Linked DNA regions of Homo sapiens: regions 1 and 3 are each linked to region 2. Evidence: fine-mapped expression QTL. A gene starts in region 2. Each other region holds a variant in brackets. All regions are shown on one strand. Distances are from middle to middle. Region 1 overlaps SYCP2L (synaptonemal complex protein 2 like). Region 2 holds the start of ELOVL2 (ELOVL fatty acid elongase 2). Region 3 overlaps ELOVL2 (ELOVL fatty acid elongase 2).

Region 1 (10,790 bases), 69 kb before region 2:
CCTGACCTCATGGTGTACATTCTATAGGATTGAGTGTGGTAATAAAGGAAACAGATGAGGATTCATGCCAGTGCTAAGAAGGAAAACACTGTGGATAAGAGAGAGACTCACAGCGTGGAAGGAGGAAACCAAGTGAAACCTCTCTAAGGATATGACATTTGAGCTGAAGTCTGAAGGTCGAGATGGAGCCAGCAGCAGGGAAGACTGAGGAAGCCCATTTCAGAGGGAATGGCCCAGGCAGATGCTCTGAGATTAAGTATATTAATATACTTAGTATATTCTAAGAATTTAGGGAAGGCCCCAATAGAAGGAGCAAGGGTAGAGTACATAAGATGAAGTCAGGAAGGGTGTGGGTGTGGATGGTGGGGGTGACCCAGGACCTTACAGGCCGTGGTAAGGAGTTTGGATTTTATTCCAATTGCAATGAATGGGTAGTAGTCAAAGGACTATTTTCGAAGGCATGTATGTTTCAGGGTGGGGAATTGGATGATATGGGCAGTAGAGAAGGATCTGGAAGGATTGCTGATGGCTTGGATGTGACAGGTGGGAAAAGGCAGGATCAAGGGCAGCTTCTAGGTTTGGGGCTTAAGCAGCTGGGTGCAAACCACTGTCACTTAAGGAGGTGGAGGAGATTGGGAAAGGTCCAGTTGATTGGCCGGGGAAGGATGAGGATGGATATGAAAGGTGAGATTCAGGACATGCATTCCATATGTGATTTCAGCATCTGAATGGCATTGTCATGTAGGTAACTGGATATCTGAGACTGAAGCTCATGGCTGGGGGCTGGACATAGACTGGATAAGTTGACCTAGGGACTCAGTATAGAGAGGAAGCCCAGGACAACATTCTTGGGCTACTCCAGTGTGTTGAAGTCAGGTAGGGGAGATGAAGCCAGCAAGAGGATGAGAAGGAGTGACTAATGAGATAATCGGGCCATCACCCCCAGGCCTTTTGGCTAAGATCAAGTGTGGAGATAACTGGGCTGGGGGAAGGCGGTTACCGAGGATCAGAGTTTGCATGTATTTATGTACTTGCCTGTGAAGTAAGAGGTCTAGATTCTAAATGGATGTTCTAGAAATGTCAGCTGGGTTTATTTCTGTGTGGTGATATTTAAAGTAAATTTAATTTCTATCTTAGGCCATTCTGTGCTTTTACAACTTACTGAAAGATAGGGGGTCGGGCTCACACCTGTAATCCCAGCACTTTGGGAGGCCGAGGCAGGCAGATCATGAGGTCAGGAGATCGAGACCATCCTGGCTAACATGGTGAAACCCCATCTCTACTAAAAATACAAAAAATTAGCCGGGTGTGGTGGCACGAGGCTGTAGTCCAAGCTACTTGGGAAGCTGAGGCAGGAGAATCGCTTGAACCTGGGAGGCAGAGGTTGCAGTGAGCCGAGATCGTGCCACTGCATTCCAGCCTGGGCAAGACAGTGAGACTCTGTCTCAAAAAAAAAAAAAAAAAAGAAAGAAAGAAAGATAGGAGTTACTTTGTGAAACAAACAACATAAAAGTTTATAAAGAGTTAAATTTTTTGCTCTCTCCAGCCTTTCCTCTTATCCATGATCCAGAGACAACCACCTCTTGATAGTTGGGAGTATATTCTTCCAAAGATTATTGTGATGCTTACACAAGAATATATACAAATATTTACACATGTATACTTATATATGTTTTTGTTTTTGTTTTTTTGAGAAGGAGTTTCGCTCTTGTTGCCGAGGCTGGAGTGCAGTGGCACGATCTTAGCTCATTGCACCTCCTCCTCTGAGGTTCAAGCGATTCTCCTGCCTAAGAGGCTGGGATTACAGGTGCCTCCCACCACACCCGGCTAATTTTTTATATTTTTAGTAGACAGAGTGTGTCGCCATGTTGGCCAGGCTGGTCTTGAACTACTCACTTCAGGTGATCCACCCACTTTGGCCTCCCAAAGTGCTGGGATTACAGGCATAAGCCACTGCGCCCAGCCTATAAATATGTATTAATTGATTAATTGATATACTAAATATATATTATTAGTTCACTCAGCAATAAAAATAGGACTCGCCTCTTAGCAATACAAGATCTTATTTTTTAATAACTGCAAAATAGTTTATAAACATGCTATAACTTATATATTTTTCCCTATAATGGACATCCAGGTTATTTTTAATTATTATTCAAAAATTTGTAGTGAATATCTTTGTACACATACCTTGAATTACATTATTGAGGAAAAAAATACTGTTTTCTTTTGAGGAAATAGCAATAACAACAAATCTCCAAATCAAAATAAGACTAAAAGAGGATATTAAAAAAAGACTAATCTGGGCTAAGAATATTGGAATAATTCCCAGCTCCAATAGAGAATTGGATTAAATGTGAACTAAATGTGCATGTTACATTTGGTCACAAGTAACAGAAATTGGACTCTGGCGGCTAAACCAAATAGGGCTTTTACTTTTTTCCCTGTGAAGAGCAGCAGCGTAGTCCAGGGCTGGTGGTACAGCAGCTTTAAGTAGTCATTAGGGACCTGGGTTCTTTGAGCTTTTTGCTTTACCGTTCTTTTTGTGACTTGGGAATTTTATAATCACAGCATGGCTGTTGTACCTCTAGGTATCTTTTCTACACCCCAGGCAGGAAGAAGGAGTTGAGTAAAACTAAAAGGTAAAAGATGTATGCCAACATCCTCCCCTCTTTCGCTTTTTATTTATTTAGTCTATTTTGAGATGAGGCCTTGCTGTGTTGCCCAGGCTGGTCTTGAACTCCTGGGCTCAACTTATCCTCCTGTCTCAGCCTCCCAAAATGCTGAGATTATAGGCGTCTGCCACCATGCCCAGCTTCCTCCCCACTTTTTAAAATCAGGGAAACAGTTTTCCTGGAAGCCCAAGCTGATAGATTTTGTCTGCATCATAGTGGCCAGAACTAGGTCACATGGCTCACCCTAGTTGCAAGGGAATCCGGAGAGGTGAAAATTTGACTGAGTGTGTCACAGCACTCCCCAAAAGTGGGGGCTTCTGTTAATAAGGAAACAGGGGAGAATAGGTGTTAGATAGGTAACTAGTCATGTCTGTCATGCCTGAATTAAATTACACATGCTGCACACAGAAAAAAATGGAGAAATAACTTATATCGCTCAGGTGATTCTGCCATTCTTCTCAGTAGGCATGTGCCCTGGAGTTTGGGTGGGATGGGAGAATCTGTTCCCTCAGTTGATATCAGCTCCTACCAACCTCTTATTTATGAGCATCTAATTGGGCTGATAGGTGGGGCATGGTGGCTCACGCCTGTAATCCCAGCACTTTAGGAAGCCGAGGTGGGCGGATCACCTGAGGTGAGGAGTTTGAGACCAGCCTGGCCAATGTGGCGAAACCCCGTCTCTACTAAAAATACGAAAATTAGCTGGGCATGATGTTGCACGCCTGTAATTCCAGCTACTCAGGAAACTGAGGCAGGAGAATCACTTGAACCAGGAAGCAGAGGTTGCAGTAAGCCAAGATTGTGCCACTGCACTCCAGCCTTGCGACAGAGTGAGACTCCATCTCAAAATAATAATAATAATAATAGGTCTGATTGCCAATCTGGCTATTAACAACATGTAGTTTTCCTAGTGTGGCCCCTAAAGCCAGGCCACCCACTTCATCTGGTGCTATAACAGAGAAAGAGCTGTCTTATCTCCAACATCCAACAAAATCACCTGTTAGGTTAAACTATCGAGAGATGGCAGGTACATCTTCAGAGTGGCATGTGTTGAAGAGATTTCTGAGGATAACCAGGCAGTTTCTGCCGAGGACACTGACATGAGCTTTTGACAACCATGTAAGATGCTTCACTGAATACCTGAGTTAGTGAGATGTAGCGGATAAAAAGGAATGATGCTCCTATTGGCTCACAGGGTTCTTAGGGACTAAGAGGAGGACAGTTCGGCCTTGACTAATTACTGCTCTCCTTTTCCTTTTCTGCCAGCCTGGGCTGCCTGAAGACGAAGAGAAAGAGCAAGGTTATTGTTGGCTCAGGCCTTGTTAGCCAGACTTCGTGCTCTGTACGCATTCAATTTCCTCCCCTCCAAACATCATCCCTGGGAACTGCTGAGTTCAGATAGAATATATGTTGGTAGTTTGCAGTTGGGTTATTATCCATTTGTTCATAAAAATTAACCTTTTGTATTAAAATTTGGTCAGATAGTATTAATAGAAAGTTCAGGATGTTAAACAACTTGGAGTGGTGTTGCTTTTTTTTTATAAAAGTAAAATGGACTTTTTTTTGTTTGAGAAATGTCTTCAAGTTTTGTGTGAATAAAACACTTTAGCAGCATCTGTATAAATACAATTGGATGTGTCTCTTGGAAGGAGAAATTTGAGTTGAAGATGATGAAGGTAGCTCAGGTAAAAATGGTGGCTTTACATTTGTTTTAATTGATTAATTAATTTTTTTGAGACAGAGTCTCACTGTGTCACCCAGGCTGGAGTGCAGTGGCACGATCTCAGCTCACTGCAATGTCCGCCTCCCAAGTTCAAGCGATTCTCTGCCTCAGCCTCCCAAGTAGCTGGGATTATAGGCGTGTGCCACCACGGCTAGCTAATTTTTATATTTTTAGTAGAGACAGGGTTTCACCATCTTGGCCAGGCCGATCTTGAACTCTGGGCCTCGTGATCCACGCACCTTGGCCTGCTGAAGTGCTGGGATTACTGACATGAGCCACCGTGCCCAGCCTGTGATATGTTTTGAAAATAAACTTATTAGGAGGTCTCATTTGATCTGCAAATATTCTCATTTCTCCAGCACTTCAACAAAAGTGTCACCTTTAGCAGGGCAGAAATATTCATCATGTTGTTATTAATTACTAGATGCTCTAGTGAAGTTTGAGTGGATGAAATTGCACATACAGGTAAGCATTTGAATTTATTTTGGAAAAATGGAGCCTACATCATTTAAGGCCATCTACAAAGTACCTTTGTTCATGACTGGATAAGTGAAGTGAAAGACTGCAGACTGAATACTTTATTCACTATATAATAAAACTTAGTTACATTATGTAGGTTATTAATTTATAGTTTAATTTGTCTAAAACGTTTATAATTCCTATTTTGCCATCTTCTATATAATTTTTCTTTTTTGAGACGGAGTCTCGCTCATGTTGTCTAGTCTGAAGTGCAATGGCCCGATCTCGGCTCACTGCAACCTCCCCCTCCCAGGTTCAAGTGATTCGCCTGCCTCAGCCTCCCGAGTAGCTAGGATTACAGGCACACACCACCACAACTGGCTAATTTTTTGTATTTTTAGTAGAGATGGGGCTTCACCATCTTGGCCAGGCTGGTCTCAAACTCCTGACCTCAGGTGATCCGCCTGCCTTGGCCTCCCAAAGTGCTGGATTGCAGGCATGAGCCACCACACCCAGCCAAGAGCACTTATTTTTTAAGTCCAAAAAACATGAATGAGGTTAACTAACTTCATTTCGTTTAGGTATATCCAGTTCAGGGCTCACAGTTTCTCATGACCTGAGAGTGTATGGATTTCAGTGCCATTACATGGACTGTCTTCATTGAAGTACGTCTGAAGAATTTATATGACTTCCAGCACCTAGTGAGCATATATTTGAGCACTGTTCTCTACAAACCCTTGAGTAAGCTGATGTGGCAGATGTTAGGATGGATACGACGCTATCTTAGCTGCAAAGAACTTAGTCTAGAGAGGACAGTAAGACACCCAGGTCACTGTAAATCAAGGCTCTATGTGACAAGTGCCAAAATGAAGTGTAAAGTGATCACCATCGGGATTATGAGGAGGTAGAAGTCATTTTTGTTGGGGTGGCAGGATGGCTTCCTGGAGGAGAGGTATCACTTGAAATAGATCTTGAAGGATGAAGGAGTTTTTTTCTAGGATTAGGAAAGAGATGCTTTCATGAATATAAGAACAGAGAAGAAAAATGCAGAATTTGTTTGAGGCCATAATACTATGGAGTATTAGTGGGAATTAAATTTAGCTAGGCCCAAACTAAAGTGTCTTTACCAGCTTGATTAGAAGGACTTTATTCTGTAGGTGAGAAGAAGCCACTGAAGACATCAGGAGCACAGTGGTTTTGGAAGATTAATCTGGTAGCAATATGAAGGCTGCATTCAGTACACTGTGGGAGGTTACTGTTACAATAAACGCCTCAACTAAAATAGGACTGGGAATGAAAAAGAGGGGACAGAGATGAGAGGCTATGGTAGGTGTAAGATTTAAAGAGCTAATTTTGAGGATGGGTTGATGGAAGTTGCAAAAACCATGAGCTTGAGATATTGGGGACATCTCTTTGGAAATACTAGAGAGG[C/T]TCTACTGCACATTGTCTTCTTCAGCGAATCCTTATAGCACTTCCTGTGTGCCATGTGCTGTGCTGGGTGCCAAGGATTCAATGTGATTTTGCCCCTGCCTGCAAGGAGTGGCAGTCTAATGGGGAGACAGACATCAGTCCAACACTTAGACAGAGAAACAGGAAAACAGCCTGGGGAGTGCTGTGCCAGGTGGTGTGTGAGCTCCCCTGGCCTGAAAAGGCAGGGCGGGGTGGCAGGATGCAGGAATCGATGTGCTTTTCCAGGCAACACGGAGAGAAGGCTGGACCAGGAGGCATCCTGGAGATGCTGACATCCAGCCCTCGGGGAAGAAGAGCAGCGTCAGCTTCCTCACCCTGACCTTGGGGACTGAGCCAGCCTTTGGGCCCATTCCCAGCCCTACACTCAGGCTCCCTTCCTTTTTGACTCACTCGTAGCCGGGAACAGCCCTGTAGCTACCCCAGCAGACTCTGTTGCCATCTGTGGCCTCAGCCTCATTTGTCATTTTAGGTGTTCCTCTGTGCTCTGACCTTCCATCCTCCGAGCAGCTCCCCTGAGGATTTGCTTTGCCCTCAGGCAGCAGATGAACTCCTGGCTTTTGCACTTGGAACCTCAGCCAACCAGGCCTGCGTGAACCAACCTCCCCTCTTGACTCCTTCCCCAACCTTCTTCCTGTGACAGAGACCGAGGCCAGTTTTTTTGCAGGGTTCAGGGCTCTAGTAGACTGCTTTCAGGGGGATTTGCTAGAGGCCATAGATGACTATAGGGAAGGGTCTTCTTTCCTGTATCGTATTAAGTTTTTATTGAACTCTATGGTTTTAAGAACTTTTTAAATTTTAGATTCGGGGGTGTATGTGTAGGTTTGTTAAAGGGTATATTGTGTGATGCTGAGGTTTAGGCTTCTGTTGACCCTGTCACCCAGATAGTGAGCATAGTACCCAATAGGAAGGTTTTCAATTCCCCCACCCCTGCCTTTTGGAGTCCCCAGTGTCAATTGTTCCCCTTTTATGTCCATGTGCACTCAAGGTTTAGCTCCCACATATAAGTGAGAACATGCGGTATTTGGTTTTCTGCCCCTGCATTAATTTGCTTAGGATAATGGCCTCCAGCTGCTTCCATGTCACTGCAAAGGATATGATTTCATTCTTTTTTATGGCTGTGTAGTATTCCATGGTGTATATATACCACATTTTCTTTATCCAATCCACTGTTGATGGGCACCTGGGTTGATTCTGTGTCTTTGCTATTGTGGATAGTGCTGGATAAACATACAAATGCAGGTATCTTTTTGGTAGAACAATTTATTTTCCTTTGGGTAGATGATACCCAGTAGTGGGATTGCTGGGTTGAATGGTAATTCAGGTTTTCGTTCTTTGAGAAATCTCCAAACTGCTCTCCACAGGGGCTGAACTCATTTACATTCCCACCAACAGGGTATACGCATTCCCTTTTCTCTGCAGTCTCGCCAGCATGTTGTTGTGGGCATTTTTCCCTGTGGTGACAAAGGCACCTGAAGCATCCCCTGCCCCAGCCCCATGAGCTGAGCAAGGGGCCGGCTTCTTTCTTACTGCTTCCTCCTCCTCCATCTCAGCTGCAGTCACTCAGATGCTCCTGAAAGTATTCAACACATACACCCCTTAGCTCTTCCTCCCTTTCAGCAACTACTGTAACTGTTCCTTCACATCCCTAGTTCTTCAGAAGGATTTTCATATGGCTTGCTTCATCATTGTTTTTCTTCGACTTCCCATTCATTCTAAAGCCCCCTGTAATCTGCCAACTGCCTCCCAAGGGCCAAATTCAGTGCCTTCCCCCCCCACGCCTTCACTAGTTGCTCACCTTGCTGCCTTGCAGCGTTTTTCTCTGTTTAAATATTCTCTTTTTCCTTGGCTTCTGGGACACCACTTTCTTTGAAGTCTATTTGAACTCTTCACCCGTCAAAACTAACCTCAGGCATTACTTCCTTTAGGAATGTTTCTCTGGCAATATATATATATATATATATATATATATTTTTTTTTTTTTTTTTTTTTTTTTTTTGAGAGGGAGTCTTACTCTGTTGCCCAGGCTAGAGTGCAGTGGCGTGATCTCGGCTCACTGCAACCTCTGCCTCCCAGGTTCAAGTGATTCTCCTGCCTCAGCCTGCCAAGTAACTGGGATTACAGGCATGGCCACCACGCCTGGCTAATTTTTGTAGTTTTGGTAGAGACGAGAATTCACCATGTTGGCCAGGCTGGTCTCGAACTCCTGACCTCAGGTGATCTGCCCATCTTGGTCTCCCACAGTGCTGGGATTACAGGCGTGCGCCACTGTGCCCGGCCTCAATACTTATTTTATAGCTAAATGTTTATCTACTTTATTAGACTATGAACTCTGAGGACAGATATTTCATCTAGATCATTCTATATCCCTAACACGATACGTAGTGCTGGACAAGATTTGATGAATTTTTAGACTGAATATAACTATTTCCAGAGTTTATCAAACTCCATAGGTCTAAACTAGCTTGAAAAGAATAGGAGCTGGTTCTACATGAGCTGTCTTACGTACAGTGCTTCAGTCTCAGAGAAATCTGCAACATCTATCATTTGTTTCTAGGGCCACTGCCGGTAAGTCTGTGTTCATCTCCCTGTAAGTATATCATATGGGCCCAGGCGAAACTCTATATAGACTTTCTCCTTTTGTTGTTCAATGTATAGGCATCACAAATTCAAATGCCTTCAGGGGCCAGCCAGGTTAATAGGCTGAATAAAAAGGATGAATGGGCCGGGTGCCGTGGCTCACACCTGTAATCCTAGCACTTTGGGAGGCTGAGGTGGGCAGATCACCTGAGGTCAGGAGTTCGAGACCAGCCTGGCCAACATGGCAAAACCCTGTCTTTATTGAAAAAAAAAAAAAAAAATTAGCCGGGAGTGGTGGCACATGCCTGTAATCCCAGCTACTTGGGAGGCTGAGGCAGAGGTTGCAGTGAGCTGAGATCACACCATTGCATTCCAGCCTGGGCAACAAAGTGAGACTCTTGTCTCAAAAAAAAGAAAAAGAAAAAGGATGAGTGATGGTGATTGTGGCAACTACAAGAGAAAATGCCCATCTCAAGTCATCCAGGTAGCTATAGACCATGGCACATGCAACATCAAGGGATGTGTGACAAGCTTCGCCTTCCTCAGCCTACCAAATGTGGTCACAGACACTTTCAGAACAGGCTCCCGGTGGGTTGCTCGTTAGATCCACAATGACCGCATTTACCAATTGCTCAATGAGGGTACGGATTACAGATTTCCTTGTCCTCTCAGTGTTATTCCAGTGTTCTGCAGTGCAATTGAAGATGGAAAAATGACCTACAAATCAATAGCTTTCAGTCTTTTTCCCCCTATGACTGAAAGTCATGTTTTACTGAAGGTCAGGGAATCCTGAGGTGACTGTAGTTAGTCTCCTAGGAGTGATTATTTCCTTGCATACTCTGGAGAGAAACTCTTCCTTAAATATGGGAATGTAATTTTTCTTGGAAGAGAGCCTGCTGTAACAAAAACACATGCTGAATTTTTTCTTTGCATAAAGGAATTAAGAGGCTTATTGATGTGAACGCTTGTTGAATAAGCAGCTCTTTAAGTTTGTGACAACAGTTATTAGGCTTGCCATAGAGACATAGGATTTATCTTTTATTTTTAAACACAAAGTTTTATTAAGTTCCACCCACCATTTAAAATAACAAAGGGAAGGCTCCTCTAAAACGTTAACCTCCCACCCCAAACTCTAGCCCCCATTCAGATAGCTAAAATAAGGTCTTCTCCTATTCCCTCTTCTCCTCCTGCCCTTCCTTAAAATCTATCCTGTCCCACCTGTCACTATCCAGGAATTTAAGCAATTTTTTAATCAGACTTTGAGCACATCTTTTGTAGTTTTCTTTAGGATCTGTGTCTCATTATACTTAATATCACATTCAAAACTCGACTCTCTACACTGACAAAACGCCAACCTGTGGTCCTGCCCCTCGCCTCAACTCTCCCAGGCATCCTCACAGTCAGGCCTCACTCACCTACATCTCCTCCCGAGCTGAGCTGACCACCTCTCTCCCCATGCAGGTGCTCTGTGAATTGTATCCTGGGTTTCAGGGCATTGCACGATGTCGTTCCTGCCTAAAAATTTCTCCTCAAACAAATCTAGTGCTCCTCCCTAGGTGGCTTTATATAGCAATTTATTAATTATCGTCTTTATATCCTCTGCTAATCTTACGTTTTTCTAGTGAATGGCCATTTTTGAAACAGCTTAACTTGGTATATGAATACAATGTAAAGGTAATGATATAATCCATTGCTCACTGAAACAAGAGAAGAATTAAATGTCTAAAATTCATGGCTAAAATAATGCCTTATTGTAAAAATAACTCCCAAGTGATAGGTCATTTGGAATTCCATGCAGGCATACATTTTAACTGCTTTGAACCAAATAAAACTCGCAACATGCATTTAATGTAAAAATCAATTTATTATACAACAATCATAGATAA
Region 2 (10,790 bases):
CTGTAGGAATACATATTATCATTTACTAAAAGGTTACACAGGCAAATGTGTATTGATGAAGCAGCTGTATTACTGAAACATGCTCAAACTGAATTGTGATAATTAAATAATTTTAAATTTATCAAGAGATTAATGATTAAATGGTTCCAAGTGCTATGTAAATTAGCAAACTGCTAGTTTTAAGTGCTGTGGAAAAAAAATAAAGCAGTGTAAGAGGATCAGGTGTGGTACATATCCAACTGTGTGTGTGAATATGGTGTGTGACATATGGTAAGGCAGGTTCCAGTTTTAGTAGAGTGGTTAGGGTAGGTCTAATCATGAAAGTATTAAGCAGACAGACATAAAGCTCTCTGGGGGAAAGATGTATACAGCCAAAGGGCAGCCAATGTAAAGATGCTGAGGCCCCATTTGATTCTAACAAAACAATCTTGTGACAGAGATAATACACCATTTAGCAAGTGAGTAAACAGTGTCTCAAAGCAACTTAAGCAAGGGAATGGAGCTAGTAAACAATAAAGCTAGGGCTAGAACCCAGGTTTCTTGACTCTTGGTCCAGTGCCTTTCGTTTTCTCCCTCTGTTCACCAGGCACACAGGAAGGTGCCCTGTTTCTTAGAAAGCACTGCATAAACATCAAGTTTCATTGCTATTGTGGTGGTGGTGGTGATTGTGATTATTAATCAGTTCCATGATATTTCTCTGTTACTATTTTTTAATTTATGCATCATAGTTGTACATATTCCCAGGGTACATGTGATGTTTTGGTACATGTATACAATGTAATGATCAAGTTAGGGTAACTGGAATATCTATCACTTCAAACATTTATCTTTTCTTATGTTAGAAATATTACAATTCTCATCTAGCTATTTTGAAACATAAAATAAATAGTCATATAATTTCTCTACTGTACTACAGACTACTAGAATCGATTCCCTCTGATATTTCCTGAAAGGAAAATAAAACTCAAAGAATGATTTCATCTTCCCTTCCCCTAGCTTATTTTTCTCCTTTATCTGTGCTTCTTTTCTTGAGTGGATCATTTTACTATCAGACTATCTGTGAAAGTAATTATACTTCTCTGGATATTTGACAAAGGAAAGGTATTAAGGGTAGGAATAACCTATAAAATAGAAACCATTTCTGACAACATGAAAAAGGGCTGAGGAAGGAATGGAGAGAATGTGGAGCCCAGTGATTCAGCGAGAGATATACATTTTCCAAGAGACAGGAAGTAAAAAAGTTAAAACAAAGAGTCTACAAAAGAGGAGATCTGTAGAAAAGGCAAAAATGGTGGAAAGGGGGCTCAAGGGGTGGAGGAAAGAGATTTTGAAATATTTTCAAGTAAAAATATGAGAATATTAGACAACAAACAATATAAAATAAAAAAGAGAATAAGAATCAGATTTCAGACACAGTAGACTGAAGAGCTGGTGGAATTACTAACAGCAAAAGAGAACAGAGAAGAGAGTCTGAAAGATGAGTAGCTTTCTTTTTGTAATGCTGGGTTTAAGGTGGCAGTGAGGTTCTCACTAGTGGAAAGGGTGTAAGAGCTTTAAGAGGTAAACTTGGAAGTTGTGTACAATCTAGAGCTCTTTGTCCAATACGGTAGCCTCTAACCACAGGTGGCCACTGAGCCGCTGAAATACGGCTAGCCTGAACTGAGATGCACTCTAAGCATAAAATACACACTAGATTTTGAAGATTTTCTATGAAAAAAAACAATGGAAAAATCTTTTTCTGCATTGATTACATGTTGAAATATTTGCATGGATTGGGTTAAATAACATTATTAAAACTAATTTCACTTGTCTCTGTACTTTTTAAATATGATTAGTAGAAAACTGAAAATTACATATGCGATTTATGTTATATTTCTATTGGACAGCAATATTAGTTGTATATTAAGACCACAAAAGGGACAGAGACATCATTCTGAAGTGTCTCAACTAAAATAGATATGGGAGAAAAAAGAACACACATCATTATAATAGTTAATATTTACTAAGCACTCCAAGCACTGTTTTAGACACATAAAGGGCACCATCATATTTGTTCCTCCCGAAAACCTTATGAAATATTATCATCTTTTACAGGATAAAATACTGAAGCCCAAGGTCACACAGTTAAATGCTGGTGTCAGGATTCAAGCCCACGAATGACCTCAGATCTCAGGTTCTAAACTGTCACATAAATTTCAGAACAAGTTATGCTCTCCAATTATTAAATGGTTAGATTTAAAATGTCATAAATTAACTATTTATTAGAATTGTTCATTGTCAAAGTCAGTTATGTCCCAATTCAATTAAGAAGAAAAGCTACAAATGCGTGAATCTGTAACTGTAGAATTACTATGAGCTACTGATGCTGGCGTATTTTCACCACATTGGGCCATTAAAGAAGTTTCTGGTGCAACTTCTTTCCCCTTATCAATGTCTACTCCCAGAAATGCAAACCTGTCAAGTTAGATGATACATATCCAACTGTCCAACCCAGACGATCATCCACCTAACCCTGAATAGCAGGGCCCTGTTTTCTGAACATAACTAGATACATAATATCTACTTGACACATTTTCAACATTCTCTTTCGGAACATGAAAGCACCTGAACCTCCCAAACTGACTAAAACGTTTTGAAGGAAACTAGATTAAATGGAACCCTTGTTGAAGAACCAAAAATTAGGCTTACCCAACTGGATACTTTAAAAATTGATTTTTTACTCCTTGAAAATGCTATACGTTCGAAGAATCGAAAGAGAAAAAGGCTGGATACTTTGGAATCCTAGGAATCCTAACAGTAAAATATCCTACAAATAGAAACTTAAGTCAATAAGGTATCTTTCATTCATCTTTGGTTGGTTCATTGGTTTTAATTTCAAAGACAAACTTATATTTCTTTCCTTTTTACCTTTAATTTCTACTACCTACCTGGGAAAGATGGTAACCACAGAACTGCTGAACTTACATAGTCATAGCTATAATTACATAATTTTCAAAAACTTATGTAAATTTTATTAAACAATTTGTTTCCAATTAATACATTTCTCCAGACTAATTTTTAAAAAACCAATGCCATAAATCCACATTATAGAAAAACAAAAGGAAATTTGAAAGAAAAAATATTTATTTTGGAATAATAAGACTAACTAGCAGAGATATCTTACAAGACAGTTCATATTGGACATGTATTGAAAAGGATGTCTCTCTGAACTGACCCACTAAGTTATTTATAAATTCAACCCCCTAACTTTCCTACTCCCTGCCCATTTTTTTTTTAAAGTAATACGATTTCAGCCGGGCATGGTGGCTCATGCCTTGTAATTCCAGCACTTTGGGAAGCCGAGGTGGGTGTTGATCACTTGAGGTCAGGAGTTAGAGACCAAACTGGACAACATGGTGAAACTCTGTCTCTACCAAAAATACACAGATTGGCCTGGTGTGGTGACGTGCGCCTGTAATCCCAGCTACTCAGGAGGCTGAGGCACGAGAATCACTTGAGCCCAGGAGGTGGAGGTTGCAGTGAGCCAAGATTGCATCACTGCATGCCAGCCTGGGTGACAGAGTGAGACCCTGCCACAAAAAAAGAAAGAAGAAAAAAGTAATACAATTTGGATTTGGGTATTAAAAAAAAATTCCTCTGAAGACCCACAGTTTCTGAGAAATACTTATCTAAACAGGAAGCATCACACTTGGGCAGGATAAAGCTTTCAAGAGCTTGCCCTTGATTTTAGCTCTTTTAGGTTAACATTCCCATGACTTTCCTATTCAGCTAAAGAGATTTCCTTGGACTTATTCCCTTACTCACTACAATTCCTACCTATACTTTAGGACAAAGCTTCAGAGCCCAAAAGGAGAGCCAGTTGGTCCTAAAAATGCTTTGTCCACTCTGATGCCAAGGTGCAAAGAGCATGAAGCGACAGACAAGGCATAAGAGATAGCCGCCTAGACTCGTCATTGAAGGCTGCCAAAATCGGGTCCCTCCTGTCGGGAGTATCTCCCTCCTCCCAAACTTCACTTGAGACTCTCATCATTACAAATGTCAACTGCATAATCTTTGCAGTTACTCCCCACCTGTGCATTAACATAAAGCAGCTTGCTTTATTGGGTTAATTCAAAAGAGTTATCAAGTACCTACTGTGCGCCAGGCACTGCTGTAGGTACTAGAAATCTAGCAAGCAATGAACGAAATGACAAAAATCTGTGTCTTCCTGAAACCTATATTCTGGTAGAGGAGACGTTCAAGAAACAAGCTAAAGAAACAAAATATGCAGTACGCTAACTAATACATGCTCAAGAGAAGACAAATGAAGCAGGCAAGGGGAATATACACTGTGGTGGGCGGGGTAGGAAAGGTTGGAATTTTAAGATTAAGTGGTCACACATAATCAGGCAGATGGTACGTGCCTAAAAGGGTAGCCAGAGCAAAATCAGATGGAGTGGGGAAGAGAAAGGAAGTGCGCTTATTTTAACAAGTCCTGAAGTGGAGAGAAAACCCTACGGGAAGGGGGTGAGGCAAACACTGAATATGGACCACTGAAGACAAACGCGGATTTCACATTTTGCCTAAAGACCAGTCCTTTGAGGATGGCACAACAGATGTTCTCCCTTTGTAACCAAAGAACCAGGCTCTGCTACTAAAACTGTCAGGCAGTTCATCGGACACGGGTGAACACACACACACACACACACACACACACAGCTTACTGTCAGGCAGTTCATCGGACACGGGTGAACACACACACACACACACACAGCTTACTGCCGAGGAGAAAGAAGCGTTACTAATCCAGAGTGGAGGACTGGCCTGGGAAATCGGGCAGAGAGAGGAGTTGTCGGAAAGAACACACCAGAAGCCCCTCCGAGCCCAGACACTGATAGAAACCCAGCCGCTTCCCAAGCCAATCTGCAAACCCAGGAGGCACCCACGAGTGCACAGACACACCCCCGGGGTGCAGGCGCGGTGAAGGGAGGAGAGGGGCAAGAGCTTGACCGTTAGGGCCCGAACCCCAGAACTCCCGAGGCAGGGTGTGTGCCGCGCGCGGGAAACGCCGTTCTCCGCTCCAGGCGTCGGCGGGCGGTGGCGAGAGCAGGTTCGGGGGTCCGGAGGGTCGGAGGGTGGGCTGCGCGCGGGAATGGCCGCCGCGAAGGAGGGGCGGCTTCCTCGGGCATCCCGGGCGCCCGGCCCCGTGCATGCAACAGGGGACTGGGCGCGAGCGGGCGCCTCGAGGTGCCGGGGCGGGACCGGGGAGAGGGGACCGAGACAAAGTTCCCGAGACCCGCGGGCCTCGGGCCGACCCGCGCGCCCCCGGCCCAAACGCTCAGCTCCCGCTCCCCAGGCCCGCGCGGACCCGGCCCCTCCGAGGGTAGCGGGTTCCAGCGGCGAACCCGCAGCGCCCGCGCCGGCGCCCGCTCGGCCCTTTCCCGCCCGGTGCGTGGGTCCAGGAGAGAAAGAAAGCGCGGCGGTGTCGGTGGCGGCGCGCGGCCCCACTCACCATGATCCGCAGCGGCTGTGGCGCGGCGACCCGGGCGGGCGGCGATGCGCTGTCCAGGGTAGCCGGGTCCCTCTGCCCGGCGCTATCTCGGCGCCCGCGCCGGTTACCCCCACCCACACCCACGCCCGGCGCGCGCACACCCGCCCGCGCCTCCCCGCCCCCTCGGGCTCGCGCCGCCGCCGCGCGGCGCTCCGAGCCTCGGGGCCGTTTCGTCCCCGCCCCCTCTCCCACAGGGGCCTCGCCGGCCGCCGCGCCAGGAGGGCGCGCGGGGGAGGGGCGCAGGGCAAGTGAGGCGGCGCCCCCCGCCCCTGCGGCCTCGCGCGCCCCCTCCTGGGCGACCGACCTCGCCCTCGCGTCCGCGGCGTCCCCTGCCGGCCGGGCGGCGATTTGCAGGTCCAGCCGGCGCCGGTTTCGCGCGGCGGCTCAACGTCCACGGAGCCCCAGGAATACCCACCCGCTGCCCAGATCGGCAGCCGCTGCTGCGGGGAGAAGCAGTATCGTGCAGGGCGGGCACGCTGGTCTTGCTTACAGTTGGGCTTCGGTGGGTTTGAAGCACACATTAGGGGGAAATGGCTCTGTTCCTGCAGGTTTGCGCAGTCTGGGTTTCTTAGGTTTAGGGGGTTGGGTGGGTTTCTCTGGGGGTGCGGTGGGAAGCGGATCAGTTCGGATAACGGCCCTGAGCAAGAGTCTCTGTCCCGCTCCCGGCCTGACGCGGGGCTTCCAGCGGACACGACCAACGGTGAGCGCACCCTCTTCACTGTGAACAGAACGGTGGCCTCCTAGAGCCTGCGCTTCTAGTTACTTTAGTTGTGTGTGTGGCCCAAGTGAAAGACGTCGAAAAAATTGGACTTGCCTGAGTATTACATGAACTTTCTTCCATTTCTCCCTCAAGCATGGGAAGTTGGCGGGCGTGGTGGTTCCCTCCTGTAATCCCAGCACTTTGGGAGGCTGAGGCAGGCGAATCACTTGAGGTCAGGAGTTCGGGACCAGCCTGGGCAACATGGCGAAACCCCGCCTCTTAAATAAAAAATACAAAAATTAGCTGGGTGTGGTGGCCTGCGCCTGTGATCCCAGCCACTCGGGAGGCTGAGGTGAAGGATGGCTTGAGCCCTGGAGGTGGAGGCTGCAGTGAGCCGAGATCACGCCACTGCACTCCAGCCTGGGCGACAGAATGAGACCCTGTCTCAAAAAAAAAAAAAAAAAAAAAAAATGTTTACCACATGTGAGGCTCATGTGGTAAACATGTTTATTGGGGTTGAGAGCAGCCCGTGTGGCTGTGCACGGAGGTACCTGCACCATACACTTAGCATCCCACACCTGGGGCGGTGTGGGAGCCCTTGCAGAGTTTTGTGCAGTAGCAGAGTGAGTAACTGTAGGTACCGGGGCTAAATCTTAACTGTCATACAATCACCTAATATATAGTTTCCTAATAGAGAGTTTTTCTTCCTAATATAGAATTTCTGTAGCTGAAGTGGTAAATATTAGGCATATATTTGTTTATAAAAGGCGGATGATTTTATGACCATAAACAGGTTAACCTAGTCTGATAAAAATCTCAGGAGTCAGCTCTGCCACATACTGGGTGTGTGGTATTGGGTTGGTTACCTAAACTGTCTATGCTCCAGTTTCCTGATTTACGAATTTGGGATAAAATAGCACTTAACATTACATGTAGCTGTTAGGGTTAAATTAATATGGGTAAAACTCTAGAAAAATATCTGGTACAAAAGTACTAGTTATTGATTTGTTATCAATTTGATGCATTTGAGAATCAGAAAGTGATATTCTATTTAATGCTGGCATATTTTTATAAAAAAGTGTGGCCCAAATCAAAGATACAATTTGATTTCAGCTTCACTTACTTTGTTCACTCAGCAAAGATTTCAGTGCCTACTATGTGCTAGGCGTTTTGGTAACAGCTAGGGTTACAGTGATGAAGAAAAACACAGTCCCTGCTGTTAGGAGTTTTTAGAACCTGTGATGATCTATATTATGATATTGAGAGACTTGAAGGAAATTCACACGAATAGTCCCCAAATATTGTTTTTCCTTGGAATGATTTTATTCTTTCTGTTTTACCTGTGTTCTTTCTTCTATTTGATACGTGTTATATTTGAAAGCTATAAAAGTAGCTTCCACGTCTTTTGGATATTGAATGATAAAAACTCTGGACCTGAATTTCACTGTATCACTAATCTGATGCAGTATAATGTGAATTCTTAATCTAGATAGTGATTTTTTGACATTATTGTGTATAAGTAGCACCAGAGGGTTTAATACTATACAGGGATACTTGAGATCCATCAAGATGACCTCAGGTACAGACCAAGAATATGAATTTTTTTTTGGTTTTGCTTTGGGTTTAATATTTGCTATCAGTTTCACATTGCGGGAGTATCTACTTCATTCCAGAGGCATCTCTGACCCTGCATAAAGTATAATGGACTCTCTATGGGTCTTGAAGTGGTGAAACCTCCATTTCTAAGGAATATGAATTTTGAACAAGCACCACAAATGATACTGGTGCAGCCAGGCAGTCCATGGATGATATTTTGAGAAACTAAATTCCATTATCCATTCAGGGAAAGCTTTAGTCTATTTTTCTAACAACATGAAGGGAAAAAACAATTTTAAGTGACAACCGACCTCTAAGAACCCTGCGGCTGTTGCTTGCAAAAATTGTATCATTGATGTCATCTAAACCTTGCAAAGCACACCAGGTAAACATGGGGAAGGAATTCTTAAACTTTGAATTATCCCTATACTTCCACATTACCATTTAGCCTGATAATCATTATTTTACCTTTATTCTCTAAAAATACACATCAACCCATAAGGCCAGAAGGAGATCTAAAAAGTCATCTATATCTTATCTGTTTCTTAAAATATTATTTTATGGCTTTCCTTATCACTACAACAAAGGAACAAATGAGACGGCAAATGCCAGAGGGTCTTTTTCCCCACCAATATTTTATTAAATAGAAAAAGGAAGTGGTGGCCAGGTGCGGTGGCTTATGCCTGTAATCCCAGCACTTTGGGAGGCCGAGGCAGGTGGATCACAAGGTCAGGAGTTTGAGGCCAGCCTGGCCAACATGGTGAAACCCCGTCTCTACTAAAAATATGAAAATTAGCTGGGCGTGGTGGCGGGCACCTGTAATCCCAGCTACTTGGGAGGCTGAGGCAAGAGAATTGTTTGAACCCAGGAGGCGGAGCTTGCAGTGAGCCGAGATAGCGCCATTGCACTCCAGCCTGGGTGACAGGGCAAGACTCCATCTCAAAAATAAATAAATTAATTAATTTTTTTAAAAAAGGAAGTGGTTCTACCTGTATAAACACAGGACTGGAAACATATCTTAACCAGATATAACTGGGAGAGGGTCTTAACTGGGTATAACATGAATTCCCACTTAATGGAAAATTTAACATGCCATCACTTACATGATTTTATAATATTTACTTTCGTTGTTCTCTTGTATGGATTACACAAAAGCTGGACTCTGTTTCTTAGCTGTACGGCAAGCCCATATTGAGCATGTGTACAATAACATAGACTAATTGTGTGTTAGGTACTTACATGGATGTGGTGCTATATAAAGTGATGATTAGCATAATCTAAGAATCTTAAACCTAAAAATAGAGATCTGACTGATGCTCTTTCTCTCCCTCTGTCACATATCGTAGATTTTATAGGTTCAGAAAGTGTGTCTCAGAGGAGTTAGAGAAGACCGATTAATAGATGACAGTGCTAAAGCCTGGATCTCCTGAATCCTGGGTGAGTATTCTCATTGTCTCTACTGCCTCTGCAGTGCTAGTCTGCCAGCCCTCATCAAAATTATGAAGTAGGCAAGCTTTGTTTTGGGGGGAGTTTAATCTCCTTTTAGTGTGGTTCTCTTCTGAAGCATCCCTTCTTTTGATATACCTAGCATCTTTGTGTTTTATCTTGAGAAAAATACTCACTTACAATGTATTATGACTTTAAATCAGTTTACTACATTTCTTCAAAGTATTTGTACTTTTAGGGTAGTAGTAGAAACAGACTCTGGAAATCACGTCCTTTCCTTGGCCATGGGCTCTGCTTTGTGTTAAGAAAGCTCTGCACCTATATGAGTTTAGAAATGAAAAATAGTAAGATAAAGAGTAAAGATTAAGCCCAAGTGAAGGCACATTGAAAAAACTGAGTTCCCTCCATCAAATTTAGTGCAGCTTTCACTCGATATGTTAGGACTAAGGATTTATGACAAAGCAATATATGTATATATTGGTCATTTGATTGGATGTAGTAACAAGGAGACAATCATGACCTTGTATCAATCCAGGTTTAAAATAAAGTTTATGTTAATTCATTTGAAAATATTATGCTGAGTACTATATTCTAGTATAACATTCTAGAGCAGAGGATGGCAAACTACAGTGGCAGGACAAATCCAGCCAGTTGCCTGCTTTTGTAAATAAAGTTTGTATTAGAATACCACTGTGTCCTTATGTTTACGTATTGTCTGTGGGTGCTCTCATGTTAGGACAGCAGAGTTGTGACACAACTGTATGGTCTGCAAGTCCCCACATAGCTACTATTTGGCCCTTTACAAGAAAAAGTGCCAATTTCTGTAGAACTTGGATGATATTAATATGGTATGGAACAATATAGGTGACTTCCCTTGTTTTATGAAGCTCATATTTCAACGAGAGGAAGAAGACAATAAGTCTAGATAGAGAAATGTCATGAAGAAACAGTATGATGATAGAGTGACTTGGGGGTAGCACTTTATTTTTCTAGGTTTTTGCTTTTTAAGTTTTTTATGTATTTTAATTTTTATATATTTAATGCATACAAGTACAGATTTCTTTTTTAATTATTATTATAATTTTTTATTTTACTTTAAGTTCTGGGATACATGTGCAGAATGTGCAGGTTTGTTAATAGGCATACGTGTGCCATGGTGGTTTGCTGCCCCTTCAACCCGTCATCTAGATTTTAAGCCCCGCATGCATTAGGTAGGTATTTGTTCTAATGTTCTCCCTTCCATCACCCCCCAACCCCGACAGATTTTGGTGTGTGATTTCTTATATGCATATATCGCATATTGGTGAAGTCTGGGCTTTTAGTGTACCCATCACTAAATAGTATACTACCTGATAGGTAATTTTTCAACCCTCCTAATTTTTCAACCTGTTAAAGTCACCAGTGCCATCCACGTTGCCGCAAATCACATGATTTCATTCTCTATGACTGACTGGTATTCCACGGTGTGTGTATGTATGTGCATGTATGTGTACACATTTTCTTAATCTAGTCCTCCAT
Region 3 (10,790 bases), 36 kb before region 2:
AGGTTTGGAAAGTCTAAGTTAAACTGCTGTAAAATTACACAGAAAGTGACAGAGCTAAAACAAACTTGTATCTTCTGACTCCATTACACCAAAGCTCCACCCAAACAGGTACTAGAACTGCTGGTGTGGTTGGACATGCAGGCTGGCCCTTCTGCTGCTGCTGTCACTTCTTTTTTATTTTACTTTAAATTCTGGGATACATGTGCAGAATGTGCAGGTTTGTTACATAGGTATACAAGTGCCATGGTGGTTTGCTGCACCTATCAACCCCTCATCTAGGTTTTAAGCCCCACATGCATTAGGTATTTGTCCCAGTGCTCTCCCTACCCTTGCTCCCCACCCCCCGACAGGCCCGGGCGTGTGATGTTCCCCTCCCTGTGTCCATGTGTTCTCATTGTTCAACTCCCACTTATAAGTGAGAACATGTGGTGTTTGGTTTTCTGTTCCTGTGTTAGTTTGCTGAGAATGATGGCTTCCAGTTTCATCTATGTCCCTGCAAAGGACATGAATCTCATTCTTTTTTATGGCTGCATAGTATTCCATGGTGTATATGTGCCACATTTTCTTTATCCAGTCTATCATTGATGGGCGTTTGGGTTGGTTCCAAGTCTTTGCTATTGTAAATAGTGTGCAGCTGTCACTTATGGAAAACAATCCAAGAGTATCTTGCCTTCTGCTATATAGAGAAACGAATCCCATAAATTACTATCTTGCTAACTCATCTAGGGAGCTAAAATTCAGCTAGTAGAGAACCTAAAATAAAAATGGTCCTTTCAGTGTCAAGTAGATTCGTGAGCACCTATGTGATATAATTTTAAGAGTTGTCAGCTGGGGGTGGCGGCTCACGCCTGTAATCCCAGCACTCTGGGAGGCCGAGGCGGGTGGATCACCTGAGGTCAGGAGTTCGAGACCAGCCTAACCAACATGGTGAATCCCCATCTCTACTAAAAAAAAAAAAAATTAGCCAGGATTGGTGGTGGGTGCCTGTAATCCCAGCCACTCGTGAGGCTGAGGCAAGACAATTGCTTGAACCCAGGAGGTGGAGGTTGCAGTGAGCTGAGATTGCGCCATTGCACTCCAGCCTGGGTGACACAGCAAGACTCTGCCTCAAAAAAAAAAAAAAGTTGTCAGCATGGCTTTTTTGACCCCAAAATTCCATCTCCTATACTGACTGATGCCTAAAATTCCATTATGAGAGCTTCATTCCAGTCATTTATGGTAATATTAATAGTTATTAAGAATGGTACATATTAGAATAATGCATAGAATAAACTCTCAAGAGAACTTTCATTTTAAGGCAAGGATTTGTTTTCTTTTAGAACTCAAGATCACCAGAAAGGCAGCTATATTTGTGCCATTATCCACCGCTTATAGCTTGTATGAATGATTTTATACAAGCTATAAAATCACTAAAAATTTTTGTTTTTGTTCTCTTTGTCCCTCTTTTTTTTTTTTTTTCTACAGCAAGTTATTTAACACTTTTAGATTTCCCCTTCCTTTACATTAAAATAACCTTGGTTGTACAGATGGGGCAATCATCCTTGTTCCTTCTCCTGTAAAATGACCTTGGTTTGGTGCTTCACAGAGGAATTTGGAGCACAGGATGTAACAAAGGGCCACTAGAGCTGAGCTAAAACGTCAGTGTTCCAAAGACATACAGAGTATTCTTTAAGGGAATATATATATTGGCATTTCAGTCAAACTAACTGCATATGATGTTTAAGTTAATTTTTAAAATACTCGGTTAATCACTGTCTACTCTCAGGCAAATTATGAAACTTTTCTAAGCCTCAGTATCCTAATCTGTAAAAGGAGAAAATTGTAACATGATCTTGAAAGGCCCATTTGATCTACATTGTGAATCTAAATTATAATTAGACTAGAGACTAAAGAAATAGGTCTAGGCCAGGCGCAGTGGCTCACACCTGTACTCCCAGCACTTTGGGAGGCCAAGACAGGAGGATCACCTGAGATCAGGAGTTCAAGACCAGCCTGGGCAACACAGTGAAACCCTGTCTGTACTAAAATTACAAAAAGTAGCCGGGCATGGTGGGGAGTACCTGTAATCCCAGCTATTCAGGAGGCTGAGGCACGAGAATCGCTTGAACCTGGGAGGCGGAGGCTGCAGTGAGCTGAGATTGTGCCATTGCCCTCCAGGCTGGATGATAGAGCGAGACTCCATCTCAAAAAAAAAAAGAAATAGGTCTAAATTGGGATAGAAAGATTCAAGTTATAAACAAGGACTTCCAGGATTTTCAGAAAGAATAATATCAAATGCTGGAATAAGTTTTTAGGTCTTAAAGTAACCTTGCATAGTTCTGCCAGGCTAGATGTGGTTGTTTCTGTTAATAAAAACTGCTAGTTACTGGACTTCAGCTTTGGCTACATAAACACTTACCTCTGCCAGCATGTACGCGGAGAGAAGTGTGATTCCAAGATTATACAAGGTGAGGATACCCCTGAGAGAAAGAGCAGGTCTGTTCTTCATATACTTGTTACCCAGCCATATTGAGAGCAGATACATGACAGTAAGAAAAAAGGTAGGAAGGTAAGAGTCCAACATGAACCACCCTCTGACTCGAGAATCTGAAAAGAAACACATACAGTGAGGATCCTGAGGAATGATGCTCCTGTTTAGTCATCAGTATTGTCACATACATTGCATTTGTACACACCAGCACAACAGGGAACAACTCCATACAACATTAGGTAGGCTGGCCTGGGTTTAGAGTTCAGGGGAAGAGGAAGCCTGTGGGCTGAATCGGTAAAGGTTTCATGGAGCAAACAGGGCTTAGGCTGAACACTGAATGAAAGGGACAAGAAGTAAAGGTGTGAAGTGACAGTTCTTGAATGCCTATTTTGGAACAGTTACTGCATTTATTTACTCTAAATTAATATGAAGTAAGTACTATTATGCAATTTTATGGATGGAAAAAAAAACAGCTCAGAAAGCTTTAGTAACTTTCAAAAGGCTACATCATAGTCGGCAGTACAGTCAGGATTTGAACCAGTCACATCTGCCTCCCAGCCCCATGATACCTTGCAGCTGTCCTCCCATGGAGAAGATCAGAGCAGTCAGAGGAAAGAAGGCATATCGATACTGTATCCTAATTCCTAAAGCCCACACAGCTCCGAATTTGCCTAGTATCAGTAATGGAAGGGGTTTAGAGTTCAGCTGGTTCAGAGAAAGCAATAGGATGACCGTGCAGCAAGCCTGGAGGCTGCAGACAGCAGAGGCAAAGCCTGGGAGCTGTGATTCAGAACTGAGGACCCAGATCTGGCCATGGGACTGGACGTTTACACAGCAGGGAGGCAAGCAGCTGAATACATCAGGGCCCCTTACACTGCAGAGTGAATATTTAAAAGCCTAAATGAAACCCACATGATAGAGCTACAATATAATTAGTAACACCTGAAAATCATTGTAGACACTAAATGATTTGTGTTCTCTATTCTGCTCTTTTTGTTTGTTTAAATAAAGAAAATGATTTGGCCCAGAATTATAAAAATTGCATGCTGCTTTTAACCTCCACAAATGGAGTTGTAGTGAGCTGGTTTCACCAACAGGCAATGGCCTTTTCTTGAATTTTTTGTTTTCTAAGTCCCTTTCTGGTGCATCCTACCCTGTATACCCCAGCCTCTTGTTAAACCACCCGCCCTACAGAGTACCATTTCTACAAGGCAAGTGCCTTCTGAAGCTCTGACTGTCCCATCACTTATTTTATAAATATCTCCCATTGGTGATAGAGATAAAAAGGTTAGAAAGCTCTTCTCAGCATTCATGTGACTAACAGATACCACCTTTCATACAGCAGGCTTGCAATCACCTGTCATAAGTCTGTGCTGTGTGTCACTTCCTAATGTCCATCTCCATATCTGAACCCTACTCATCTTTTAATGCCCAGATAAAGGTCCTGACTTCTGAAGGGAGACATTTCCTACTGTGTTTTCATATTTATAGCTCCTCATATGCATAGCAAGACAATTATTATCATTTTCTAATTCACATATTATTATGGCTATGATACTGTTACTATAACATTTACTGAGCACTTATTCTGTGCCAGGCACTATTCTGAAGGCTTTTACATGTATTAACTTATTTGATTCTCAAAGCAATCCCATTATATAGGTGATAATATCATCCCAGTTTACCCTTAAGAAAAATTGAGCTGTAGAGGCCTAGAAAAGTGAAATGACTTGCACTAAACTGCTACGCTACTTCTTGTTATGGTGTTAGACTGAATTGTGTCCCCCACGAAGATGCCTTCAAGTCCTAACTCCTGGTATCTGTGAATGTGACATTATTTGAAAATAGAGTCTTTGCAGATATAATATAGCTAAGATGAGGTTATACTGGATTAGGGTGGGCCCTAAGCCAATGACTAGTGTCCTTATAAGAAGGAGAGGTCTGAATACAAGGACAAAAGAGAAGACGGCCATGTGAAGAGGGAGGCAGAGATTGGAGTGATGCATCTCCAAGCTAAGGAACACCAGAGATTGCCACCAACCACCAGAAACTACGGGGAGTCATGGTACAGAATCTTCCCTAGAACCTCAGAGGGAACAAGGCTCTGCTGACACCTTGATTTCAGACTGTTGGCCTCCAGAATTGTGAAAGAATACATTTCTGCTATTTAAGCCACCCAGTTTGTGGCACTTTTTATGGCAGCCTAGGAAACAAACACACATGGTTTAGTATTTAATTGATTTCCAGTAGTTTCAGATGTGCTGGCTTTACCTCCCCAACTATAGTACATGCTCCAGGAGACAGCCACTAGGTCTTATATCTCTACTCTGTCTGACTCATACCCACGTAGTGCTGAGTTAAGAGGAAACATTCATTAAATGCATATCCATTGGCACATTGAGTCAAGCACATACTGCAAACTAATATAGCACCTGAGGTTTTTGTTTTCTTTTGTCACAGTGCTGTAAATGTTTGCTACAGTTGTTAAGGATAATCATAGTTGTTTTAGCCAAAAGATAGGAACAAATGCTTGTAATAAACTTTCTTATCTTTGGGACTTGAGAAGTGTTAGCTCTTCCTCTGAGTCAGTATTTGCTCAGAACAATACCCCTTGATGGTACTAACATGGTGTGGGCAAAATCAGAAGAGGCTAGGAGACACCGAGAGGTTTATTCGGTGATGTGCCAGTCAGCATCAGGGTGTGAGACTTTTAGGAAGAAAAAAGGATTCCTGATGGCTTACATGCTAGACACCTTGTCAGTGTGGAGCTCATCTGATTCCACTGTCAACTGTCAATTTTACAATCTCCTTGCTACAAAGGAAAATTCCATAAAATGACCAATGCAGAGTAAACAACTGTAATCCTTTCCTCAATTGATCCCACATCCACATAATTCCAGATCACGCCAATCTTACTGGCAGCAAAGCTCAGTGAACTTGGCGCA[G/C]ACAAGTTGTTGTTTAACTGTCTAGTCGAAGTGTCAAACAGAAAACCACTGTCACCAACAAATCATACTTCCTCCTGGATCTTGCATGCCTAAGCGAGAGTGCCCCCGGGGCCTGCATGCCTAACTAAGAGAGGGGGCTCCGGGTCCTGCATGCCTAACTAAGGGAGGGGGCTCTGGGTCCTGCATGCCTAAGGGAGGGGTCCCGGGTCCTGCATGCCTAAGGGAGAGGGTCATGCCCTCTACACTGAGCTGTTCTCCTTTCTACCCACTAGAACTGTAAGGGAGAGAACATAGTAAAAGTAGGTTAGAAGATAAAGATATTCTGCCCTGCCTACCCCACAGAGTCATCAGGAGGTTAAATGGAAAAAGCAAAAAAACCTATGTGAAAGGATTTTTTCAAAGCTGTATAGAATCAGTATCATTATATTAAAACTATATAGTCATGCATTTAGAACAGTTAATAGAGCCCATGGAGAAAATGGAGAATGGCCTAAATACTCAAGTGATTGTTTAAAGATCTTGAGAAACAGGAAAACCTCCTCATTCCTTGCTCTCTCACTCCTCCAATAGGGCTGAGGAAATAACTTGTAGAGAACTAAGGACTTTTCACAGTTCTGTGAGCCAATAAGGCTCAAGTAAAATGAAACCTTCTGTCTAGAATTCATTCATTTATTTGGAAAATATACAGTGCTGAATATGTTCCCAGAACTGTAATAAACCCTGGAGATAAATGGTGAGTAAAACAGCCAGGGTTCCTGCCCTTCTGGGAGAAATCGCTGTTGGTAACAATGAAGTATCTGAAGGAAGTAAACAAGGGTTGAAACAGAATGATGAGGGACCACAGCAGACCCCTCTGGATGCCTGAGCCTGCAGATACTCCCAAACCCTGTAGGTACCATGCTTTTTCCTGTACATATACACCTATGGAAAATTTATAAATTAGGCATAGTAAGAGATTATAACAATATACTATAATAAAAGTTATGTGAATGTGGTCATCTCTCTATCTGAAAATATCTTACTGTATTGTGCTCCCCTATTTTTGGACCATGGTTGACCACGGGTAACTGGAACTGCAGAAAGCGAAACTGCTGCTAAGGGGGGACTACTGTACCTTAGAGAGGCAAAGCCCAACTGAAAAGGCAACGTTTAAGCTGACACCTCAAGTGTGACAGGAACTGACTCATCTGGAGGGAGGGGTAGGAGATCCTAGGAAGGAATTCCAGGCTCAGGGAATAGCACGTAAAAGAATTTTACATATTTGCAGAATTAAAAGATGGCTTGAGCAGCTGTATGAAAGCCAGTGAGGACGACGGATACTGACTGAGTTGGAGAGGTTGCTGGGGTTAGACAGCCCAAGGGTGCGCAGTCCATGATAAGAAGTTTGGTTTTTACCTGAGAGCAGTGGGATGACACTGATGAGTTTTAAGCTACAGTGCCATGCAATATGACTTAGGTCTTTAGAATGTCATTCCAGCTGACACTGAATAAATGACTGGAAGGGGCAAGAGTGGAAGAGGGGAGGCCTGTTAGGAGGCCACTGCAGTACAGTAAGCGACTGGTGATGAAGGAAAGATGGAGAGATGTCTAAGCTCATCCTACCTACGGGCCCCGGGCAGAGAAAGCGCACACATCTTTTTTTTTTTTTTTTTTGAGACAGAGTCTCACTCTGTTGCCCAGGATGGAGTGTAGTGGCGCGATCTTGGCTCACTGCAAACTCTGCCTCCTGGGTTCAAGTGATTCTCCTGCCTCAGCCTCCTGAGTAGCTAGGATTACAGGCATAAGCCACTACGCCTGGCTAATTTTTGTAATTTTAGTAGAGACGGGGTTTCACCATGTTGGTCAGGCTGGTCTTGAACTCCTGACCTCATGATCCGCCCACCTCAGCCTCCCAAAGTGCTGGGATTACAGGCATGAGCCTCCACACCCAGCCAGCGCACACATCTTTAAAGGGAATTTATCAAGGCATCTAAGGGCAGAAATGTCACATATAACTAGGATGTAAGAAAGGTGGAAGATGAATGGGCAGTGGAGAGGAAACAAGAAAGCAGCATCCTTTAGAAGGAAAGTTACAACCCGGCTTTGTAGCCAGACAGACACTGGAGGAAAGCATTGCATTTCACTCTATCTCTGCTTCCTGCTCCCAGAACTTCTTTAATCCCAGGAGAGGTTAAGCAGTAGGAGAAATGGGATCTTCTGGACATTCTGGAAGGATATCAAAGTTGAGGAAGTTAAGTTTCTAAATATTAAGTACCTTACTATTTCCAAGACACCAGAAATAACATAATCCCTTTCTATAACTAAATGGTGTTCTTCCTGTGTTCCTTCCACATTAAGTTCTCAAGTAATTCACTGACCTCGCGGTCCAAACATATTGTCCAAAAAAGCATTGATTTCATCATCAAAGGCCTTTAGATGTTCCTAAAAAGAGAAAGAAAAAATGATTTAAGTGTTTTTTTCTTCTTTTTTTGAAACGGTCAAAACAAGCCACTACCAACAACATGTAACTGACAGACTTTCAAAGGGTCCCAGCTTCAAGGACTTTTGACTGCAAAGACTTAAGGAAAGAGGACAGTAAATGCATCCTCACCTTTCACAAGCCTATAAAGATTTGGAAGGAAACAATTCCTCTTATTTCCTTAGGCAAGAGGAGTCCTAGAGAACAGACTTGGTGCATTTAAACATTGAAGGGTTGGCCAGGCGCGGTGTCTCACACCTGTAATCGCAGCACTTTGGGAGGCTGAGGCAGGCGGATCACGAGGTCAGGAGATCGAGACCATCCTGGCTAACATGGTGAAACCCCATCTCTACTAAAAATACAAAAAAAATTAGCCAGGCATGGTGGCAGGCACCTGTAGTCCCAGCTACTCAGGAGGCTGAGGCAGAAGAATGGCGTGAACCCGAGAGGCAGAGCTTGCAGTGAGCCGAGATCACGCCACCTCACACCAGCCTGGGCGACAGAGTGAGACTCTGTCTCAAAAAAAAAAAAGAAAAAAAAACATTGAAGGGTTATTGACCTAAATTCCATTTACCTCTAAAATGCTTATAGGCAAAGCTGTTCCATAAGCAACTTCCCTTGTTACAATAACAGTTGTGGGTAGGCAATAGAGAACATCTGTTTCCACAAAATATATTCATAAATCCAGTTTTAAAATGAAAATTCAGGCTGAACTGTATTTCGTAAAACTGAATCTAAAACTTTAAGTAGGACTGTTTTTCAAGTAAGGAGCATTACAGCTATTTTTTCTATTTATGTTTTGTTTGTTTTCAAACTATTTCTTACACATTAACATCTACTTTATATTACTGTAAATAGTGCCACTTGGGTACACCCGATTAATTATTGTCACTTTCACTGGATTCAGGTGGGAGCCGGAATACTGCCAGCATGGTCTGCTCTCACGCTGCTCAAAATACCCGTTCAGGTATTTCCCAGCTCCGCCACAGAGGTCTACAGCACCTCCTCAAGCAACCAGAGGAGAAGTCAGAACATTACCAGTATTTCCAGGAAGGTGGGGCCAGCGGGTTGGTCCCTGACTGTGTGTGAGCTGAGCATGACAGCCTCGGGAAGTTGATATGGAGCATGCATTAGATTCAGCTCACTCTCAAAAAAAGTTGTAAGTGCCAAAACAGATGATTAATTTGCTGGCATCTGAAAAAGAGGAGCGGCATGTTTGCTGCCTGGCACATATCACTTGGACCTATTCCTTATTTGTGACTCTGATCCTGAGAGAAATTTCAAGGAAACGTATGTCTTCGGGAACTTTAGAAAGCTTGGGAAAGAGGATGAAGATGATGACTAACATTGACTGGCACCTACTATTGCTGGCCAGCATATAAGGAACTTTATCTTCATTATTTCATAATATCTTTATAAAAAATATCTGGGCTAAACCAAGCCTGAAAATTTTTAAACAGTATATTCATCTTTGTTTCCATGTAGGGCATCTCGGGAGGCCCCCGATGTGAGAAAGGTCAGTTACCTGAGATCTCAGTGTGACAGAATATGATCTGTGTTGCTTTAGAATGGGGGCGGCTGACCAGAGGCCTCTCAGTCTTGAGCAAAGAATGTTAATCTCACAAATGTACTCACCATCATAACAAATGCCAATGAAGTCTTTCTTCCATTGCTGCACCCACAAACAAATGTTTAAACTGTTTCAGCTTGTTTGCTAAGGTTCAAAATCCATTTTCCAACATTTGTAGAGCTAAGAAAACGCTAAAGGTCACAAAGCCCGTATTATTTCTATATTGCAAAAATTTAGTCACAGTGGAAGAAGGGCAGAAACAAAAGTAAAACAAGGGAAGATGTGGAGAACAGAAAAGGAAAGAGATGAATAAAAAGAGGCATTCCATTCCTTTATTCATTAATTTATTGATTCATTAACCAATTATTTGAGGATTTTATATACTAGCACTGTTATATGCTGAAAAATAAAGTCAAATGAGATGTGGTCCTTATCGTCACAGAGTTCTTAGTGGAGAGAGAGTAATACACAAATAAATAAAAAAATTGCAGTACCAGTGTCTTAAATATTATAAGAGATGTGCTATAAAGGATAGAGAAACATACTTTAATTTAGATCTCTTAAAAAGTAAAGCCTTCTTGGAAGAGATAATGCTGTGGCTGAATTTTGAAAGACTGGAGACATTTTCCAGATGGAGAAGGAAAGAAAGAACACATCAGAAAGAAAGATTAACATAGATAAAACACATTGAGGCATGACTCCCTTGGGAAATGTTTTTATGGCCAGGGTCTCTAGTGACCTATCTGACAGAGAGAACCACAGCCAATGCTGGGAAAATCAGAAACCTGATAAAAATTCTCTCTTTATTTCTGGGTTACTTAATATAGTTAGTAAGGAAGTAGTCTAAAAAGGCAATGATGAGATGAGGTGATGTCAGGGGAACAAACTGAGGTTTACACTGGAATAGTAAAACATAGCATAAGCACAGAGAGGTCTGCAGTGTTAGTGAACTGGGGTGAGATTAGGAAGGCTAACTGGGCAGAGCTTGGACCACAAAGTCCTAGCTGCACACTAGACTAGATTCTGTATGTAAATGTCAAGTGTGCTGGACAATGTCTGAAGATTAACACCAACTTAGGAGCAGAGAAAAAGCAGCAAACTCCATGCATTTCATTGACACATTTTTGAACAGCATTCGTGTACATAACACTTTGTCATACATATGAAGGAAAAGGAGACAGAGTAGTTGACTGAAAAGTTTATGCACAAATTGGGAAAGTGAGACATAGAAAGTCAAACAGCAAACAACCGAGAGGAGGAGGACACACAGAACTGCCACACGACAGAAGATACAGGCGTGCGGATGCAGGATGGGTTTTTCAAGATGGTTAGAATTGGGTGGATGAG

The links. PIP is the estimated chance that this variant, and not a neighbour inherited with it, causes the effect.
Region 1: its variant is the best candidate, but not a certain one, in a credible set for the expression of ELOVL2 in lung (TOPMed, PIP 0.70).
Region 3: its variant is the best candidate, but not a certain one, in a credible set for the expression of ELOVL2 in anterior cingulate cortex (GTEx, PIP 0.58).

What each region holds. Positions count from the first base shown.
Region 1 is chr6:10,970,011-10,980,800 of GRCh38, forward strand. It overlaps SYCP2L (synaptonemal complex protein 2 like), which reads left to right. Exons shown (of 30, transcript NM_001040274.3): 30 at 3,942-4,299. ELOVL2 (ELOVL fatty acid elongase 2) reads right to left here. Exons shown (of 8, transcript NM_017770.4): 8 at 10,749-10,790. Among named protein-coding and RNA genes, the nearest start is that of ELOVL2-AS1, 68 kb to the right of the region's middle. RefSeq lists an enhancer at 6,173-6,673. The variant C/T (reference allele first, on the strand shown) is at 6,289.
Region 2 is chr6:11,038,737-11,049,526 of GRCh38, forward strand. ELOVL2 (ELOVL fatty acid elongase 2) reads right to left here and starts at 5,569. Exons shown (of 8, transcript NM_017770.4): 1 at 5,492-5,569. The coding sequence starts at 5,494. It overlaps ELOVL2-AS1 (ELOVL2 antisense RNA 1), which reads left to right and starts at 5,022. Exons shown (of 5, transcript NR_038964.1): 1 at 5,022-5,089; 2 at 9,173-9,263; 3 at 10,373-10,483. RefSeq lists a silencer at 5,465-5,664 and enhancers at 6,099-6,599, 6,600-7,100.
Region 3 is chr6:11,002,974-11,013,763 of GRCh38, forward strand. ELOVL2 (ELOVL fatty acid elongase 2) reads right to left here. Exons shown (of 8, transcript NM_017770.4): 2 at 7,773-7,836; 3 at 2,399-2,586. Among named protein-coding and RNA genes, the nearest start is that of ELOVL2-AS1, 35 kb to the right of the region's middle. The variant G/C (reference allele first, on the strand shown) is at 5,416.